Linked DNA regions of Homo sapiens. The protein of the gene in region 2 purifies or fractionates together with the protein of the main gene of each other region. This does not show direct contact. Each region holds a gene or a part of one and is shown on either strand. Other genes may lie near its edges.

The links.
Region 1: the proteins of CYP11B2 (region 2) and TRIM2 purify together in Homo sapiens (affinity purification with western blotting; one study listed by BioGRID). This does not show direct contact.

The regions. Positions count from the first base shown.
Region 1 is NC_000004.12:153,207,262-153,211,083, reverse strand, and holds part of TRIM2 (tripartite motif-containing protein 2), read right to left. Parts: intron 1-3,822. UniProt on the Homo sapiens protein: UBE2D1-dependent E3 ubiquitin-protein ligase that mediates the ubiquitination of NEFL and of phosphorylated BCL2L11. Plays a neuroprotective function. May play a role in neuronal rapid ischemic tolerance.
Region 2 is NC_000008.11:142,912,452-142,915,165, forward strand, and holds part of CYP11B2 (cytochrome P450 11B2, mitochondrial precursor), read right to left. Parts: coding exon 2,595-2,714; intron 2,458-2,594; coding exon 2,254-2,457; intron 1,968-2,253; coding exon 1,813-1,967; intron 1,001-1,812; coding exon 834-1,000; intron 435-833; coding exon 356-434; intron 277-355; coding exon 79-276; intron 1-78. UniProt on the Homo sapiens protein: A cytochrome P450 monooxygenase that catalyzes the biosynthesis of aldosterone, the main mineralocorticoid in the human body responsible for salt and water homeostasis, thus involved in blood pressure regulation, arterial hypertension, and the development of heart failure.

The DNA.
Region 1 (3,822 bases), on a different chromosome or scaffold from region 2:
TCATATTGGAAGCCTGTGTTTCCTGAATGCCCCTGGACAGTGATGAGGAGGGGTGGGTAGGCTGCCATTGCCCCATCCCCTGTCTCCTCCCAGCCCTCCAGTGACAGCTCAGACAATGGTGCCCTGCATGTCTGGGTTTACTGCATGTGTTGAGTGTGGGAAGAGGGCTGCTTTTTTCAGATCTTGTCACTATCCTTCCTTGTCACAGTTCCAACACGGCTTCTGGGGCTTCTAGGGTCACTGCTGCCTTATGGGGTCTTTTCATTTTCTTTTTGTAATGGCCAGCATTAATATTTATGCTGTGCCTCCAGTATGTCCAGAACACACAGAGTGTCCAGGAAACACAAGAGCTAGCCTCACTGAAGTGTATTTAAAGGGGCCACATTTCTAAGAAATCACTGATTGCTGCTGTTTCGTTAAAAATGCTCTCAAGAAAATAGAATCATCCAGTGAAGAGCACAAATCAAGAATCAAATATTTTGAGAGCTCTAGTTCCTTCCTTTTGGTCCCCAGTGGAATAACCTGCATGTCAGTGAGCTATTAAAAGGATTTGGCTCCATTTGGCATTCCTGGAAATGCAATTATTGCCCAGTTGCCTGTGAAACATTTGGGGACCCATGAAAAAGATGGCCTTGCAGATTTCACAGGACTTTTGCTGCGAAAGAGACTCCTCAGCAACATTTTGCTTGATGTCCCTACATTTAAAATTAAGTCACCCAGCCCAGGCACGGTGGATCACACCCGAAATCCCATTACTTTGGGAGGTCAAGGCAGGCAGATCACCTGAGGTCAGGAGTTTGAGACCGGCCTGGCCAATGTGGCAAAACCCTGTCTCTCCTAAAAATACAAAAATTAGCCATGCGTGGTAGCAGGTGTCTGTAATCCCAGCTACTTGGGAGGCTGAGGCAGAAGAATCGCTTGAACCTGGGAGGTGAAAGTTGCAGTGAGCCGAGATCTCGCCACTGCTCTCCAGCCTGGGCAACAGAGTGAGACTCCATCTCAAAAAAAAAAAAAAAAAAAAAAAATTAAATCACCCAATGTGGCAACTAGGAATATCTTGGAAAACTATATGGATTTGAAAGTATCTTGAAAAGCACAAATGCTGTTTATGGTGCATGATTCTGAGATCAGGTTACAGCTTTAAAGTTCAGTTGAAACTCTATTTTATTCTCCTGCAAAGAGTGAGAGAAGTCATATGGAGGAAAAAACCCATCCTTGGAAGGTCTCTGGTGGGATATACTTAACTACTTACCATATCAAAGAACACACATTGAAAAGTGCCAGACCAGGTTTAGAGTGAGGCTTTGAGGGTACTACAGATTTAAATGTCTTCCTCCCACACACTAAGGAATAGATCTCATTTTTCAAGTTGGTAACGTTCGTGAAGTCAGACACTGACCCTTTGTCTCCCACGGTTTCTAGAGTCAACAGTTTGAGGAATTTCATTGAAGTTCTATTTGCATAACAGTTGCAAAATGTGAAGTGTACCATTCCCTCGGTTCCAACTTGTTAAGTACGGTACTTGAAGGCACAGGTGGACAGTGGGCAAATACACCTGGTAGTTAAAGACCTATATATCAGGAAATGCTCCCTTAAAAAGCTGAGCAGGACTGGAGGTGTGATAAGGGATCTTGTACCCAGCATGTGCCTTGAGGTGAGACTATGCATATCTAAACAACTCCCAGGGCCCCTCTAGGGAGTGCAATTCCAGTTGAGTTTTCTGATTCATCTTCCATCTTTTATGGGGGTGGGTCCCTTGAACATATCGGAGTGATAAAACAGCATGCTAATAAGTGTGGGAGGTGGTGTGAGTGTCCCTTGTTTGAAAATTTAAGTAGATTTAAAAATTCTCAAATGCAAGGGATTATGAATGTAAACCACATTGGTGTTCCATTACTCTAGTTAGGGAGGCATTGGGTGCACCAAGGTCACCAGGCTCCCTGCTCCTTACGTGCCTTCAGGGGCCTGTCCACCATTTTTCCTGATTCCGCTGTGTTAGATCTTTGGCTGCTGGACCTCAGTTTTCCCAGGGTTTTTCATAAAATGGGCCTGGTGAAGAAATGACTCCAGTCTTGTCAAATCTTAGGAAGAAGGAATTGATGCTGGATCTTCTGAACGAACACATTTCTTTGTGTGTGTGGATATGGTTCTCAGTACCCACCCACTGCTCCAGATGTGCTCCCAGCTCCAGACCTTGCCTTGCAGGCTCACACTTTTGTAATGTATGGAAATTGTAAATGTTCTCTGCTTGGAATCCTCTGGAGCATCATCTAGAAACCTCCATCGGGATGGATGCAGTGTTCCATCTGGGAGGGAAAAGGAACGACCCCATGCCAAGCACTATGGAGGGCAGTCTACATGTTCTAGCTTTCCATTCTCATCATAGCCCGATAAGGCAGACAATATCGTTCCCATTTTCAGGTGAGGAAAACAAGAACTGGAGAGGGTAAGTGACTTGCCCAAGGTCACTAGCAGTCAACCAGCAGACCTGAGACTCGAGTTCAGCTCTGTTTGACCTATGTTCTGGTCTTGACACATCTACGGGATATTATATTTTCCATACAATTTACTATGAAAATTTTAGATAGTGACAAATTTTACATAAATGAGTTTTAGATTTATTTATTGTTTATTAAATAATAAAATTATTTATTATAATTTTAGATAAAGATAAATTTATCTAAAATTGTGTAATTTCTTTGTGTAAGAAATTACACAAATTTCTTCTTGTGTAAAGTAACCAACTTGAATGTATCATTACCTCCTGTGAAAATAAAAAGTGTACTTTCCTTTTGAGACAAGGTCTTGCCCAGGCTGGAGTGGACTGGCACAATCATAGCTCACTGCAGCTTCCACCTCCCAGGCTCAAGTGATCCTACCGCCTCAGCCTCCTGAGTAGCTGAGACCACAGGTGTGTACCACCATGCCCAGCTAATTTTTATTTTTATTTTTTAGAGACAAAGTCTAACTATGTTGCCCAGGCTGGTCTTGAACTTTTGGCCTCAAGCGATCCTTCCACCTTGGCCTCCCAAAGTGCTGGCATTACAGGGTTCACCACTGCACCTGGCCAGAAGTGAACTTTTCAAACCACACACAAGACCCATCTATTATTCCTGGATGAGCCTTCAACATGGATAAGCATGATCAGCAAGGAGCTCAAGGGTGATTTCAAACCATGTTTAACTTACGGCTCATGAGTTCCTCCGGGGAGATTTCTGTCAGATCTAAAGTCATAGACAGAAGCTAGAATGGACTTTGAAGATCATGCCTCAGGACAGATAGAAAACCGTGACCCTGAGGGACTCCCTTTTCCAGAGCCACCTGCTGGCCAGTCCCGGATGGAGACCAGAACGCTGATGTCCAGCCCGCCCTTCTTTCCACTGCACTGCATTCTCTTAGCATTTCCTTTATCCAATGTCACCAGTAAATCAGAGAGACATTTGGTAAACTTAGATGGTATTTAGGACTGTCGTTAGATGCTGGTAGCAGTCATAATAAAATAATTAATATTCACTGAATATTTGCTGTGCACTGAGTGCTGTATAAGGAACTTTGATGCATGACCACATTTAAACCTCACAATCATCCAGTGAAACAGATTGTCATCCCATTATTTGGCTGAAGGAATACAGACTTAGGGAGATTTGGTAACTTGCCCAATAACATATAAGTAAAACAACGAAAGTGAGGCTGGACTCCAGGTTCGTCTGAATCAAAGCTCTTGCTCTTAACCCCTTGTTTTTAAACCCGTGTTCTTTGGCTTCTGCCTCTGTGTGTCGTCTGTCCCCCATCGGCCACCGCACCGCATAGGCCTACCAGTGT
Region 2 (2,714 bases):
ACCATGCAAGCCCCGCCCCCAGTGTGCAGGTCCCGCCTCTGCTGCCCAGGTCCCGCCCCCGCCCCCAGGCCTGCTTACGTGGTGCAGCAGCAGCAGCATCTCTGCCTCTGCCAGGCGCCGCCCGAGGCACTGGCGCATGCCAAAGCCAAAGGGCACGTGGTGGAAGTTCCTGCCGGAGCCCCTGATGTCTAGCCAGCGCTGGGGATTATACCGCTCAGGCCTCGGGAACAAGGCGGCATTGCGACCCAGCGAGTAGAGGAAAACCTGTACCAATGTCTGCGGACGGTGCAGAGCAGGGATCAGGGAATGACTGGGGAGGGAGGTTCTCAGCTCGAGGGGTGTGGGGCTCACTCACCCCAGCTGGGATGTGGTAGTTCTGAAGCACCAAGTCTGAGCTCACCACTCGCTCCAAAAACAGACCCACAGGGTAGAGCCTGGAGGTGGGGGCATCCATAGAAAGGGTCCTCAGCTGGATGGGGCTTCCTGTGCTCTCTGCACCCTTCCTACCGAAGACCCCGCAGAGGTCCCAGATCCATGGGAAGCCCAGGTCGTAGGAAGTACTTCCTTGCACCTGCTGAGCCCAGCCAAACCTCCCCTAACTTGAGAAGCCCCAAGCGCAGAAGGACATGCCCCACGTTAATCCCCAGGGTGTTGAAGAGGGATTCCAGAGGAAGAAGAGCTCCCTGTCCTTGAGGGGGAGGAAGAGCAGGTGCAGGGGAATGGGCTGCTGGGTGACGCTGTTTATCAGCCCCAGATTCTGTCTGCCACCACCCAGTGGGGGCTGCTCTCCAGCAGGGGGCCAGGGCCACAGGGAGGCCTCAGCCAGCACCCACCGCAAGGTCTCCTTGAGGGCCGCCCGCAGCAAGGGCAGCTCGGTGGTTGCCTTCTGGGGATGTTCACTGATGCTGGCTGCGGCGGCCAGGCTCTCCTGGCGCAGGATCTGCTGCACGTCGGGGTTCCGAGCCAGCTCAAAGAGCGTCATCAGCAAGGGAAACGCTGTCTACAGAAGCCATGTCTGCAGGGTCAGACCTTGCACAGGAGGACTCAGCCCCCGGGACACCCCTCCCAGGACAACCTCCCTCTGAGGGGTGGAGACATCCATGCCCTGAGCAAAAACAGAGCCCTGGGACCCCGGATCTGAAACCTTGATGACCACTTGGGCCAGATTCCCTGACTTCTTCAGGGAAAGGTGACCCCCATCTCCACCAAGGCCCAGGTCCCCTGCAGCCTCTTCAGGGCGGGTTCTCACAGCCACCATTAGGGCAGGGGGCCACACCTCAGCATCATCCAGGGAGTTCTGGAGCCCCAGCTCCCTCTGCTTCCATTGAGTTCTCCCCACTGTGCACCCACAGGCCCCTCTGCACTGGCTGGAGCCTGTGCTGCTGTCTTCCCCACAACCCTGCCCTCCCATGCATCTACATTTCTGGCCCAAGGTGACCGGGCACACTGGGAAGGGTGCCCAGTGGAGTCCTCCAGCTGCCTCTCAACCCTCCTTCTCCTTGTACACCCAGAGCTTTCCAGTGGGGACAGAGCTGCTGTGTGTCCAGGGCCTCATCCAACTTTCTTCCAGCCTGGAGCATGGATCCCCACACAGGTAACTGCAAACTCAGTCTCATGTGAGGGGGAGCTCACATTTCCCCTCCCCTGCAAATCTCATCCCTTAACAAAGGAGGGGGAAGGCTGAGGGCAACAGAAATGTGGGGCCTGTAGCCTGGGGATGGGGAACGTGGGTGCCGTGTGGCATTGGCAGGCAGTGCCTGGGAGGCAGGCTTGGCATCACCCTCTCTGGGTGGGGCTGGTTGCTGGCCTGACCGTGTCCACGCTCCCTGCAGTGAGTTCCATAGAGTTGGCCTTGATGGCTTCTAGTGACAGTTCCGCCTTCAACAGGAGCTCCGCCACGATGCCTGTGTAGTGTTGAGGGCGGTTGAAGGCCAGTTCCTGGTAGATTTTCTGGATACAGTTGTCACCTGTCCAGGGAGCAGGGGACAGCCCTCAGATCTTGGTGCTGGGAAGCATCCTTCAGTGTCCTCCTCCTGCCCAGACTGCCCCGACACCCAAATCTCCCTGCTCTCATCCCAAATTCTCCGGATCAGCCCAGCCCAGCCCCAGCCTCGCACCAATCTCCCCGGCAGGAAGGTGAGGAATCCCCGACCCCTCCCTGTGGCCTCCATTCCCCACTGGGTGGTGGAGAAGGAGAAATTGGGCCCCCATGGTGTCCCTTCCCCATAGCACTGCCCGGGTCCCTGGCCTCACCGTACTGGAAGATGCAGTCCCAGGCCTCAAAGTGCTCCTTCCACACCTTGGGGCTGATCCAGCGAGACAGGCTCCTGGGCATGAACATGAGCTGGACGGTGGATTTGAACATGACCTCCAGGGCATGGAGGAAGTTCAGGCTGGCAGAACTGGGGCTGTGGCCAACCAGGCCCAGCCGCTCTCCAAAAAGAGCTAAGTTGCTGGCTGCGGGGAGGATGCACTGCTGAGCACAAGGCAGCCCCAGGCCTCCTGGCTGCCTCCCCACACTCCCTTCAGTCCTCCATCCCCATCCCTGGCCACTCCAGGGTCTCTGGGGCTGGACCTTCCCGCATGGCCCACACCTTCTATGGTGTAGTGGAAGATGCTGGGCTGGACGTCCAGGGTCAGGCTCCCCCGGGCGTTCTGCAGCACCTTCTTCTTCAGGGCCTGGGAGAAGTCCCTGGCCACTGCATCCACCATCG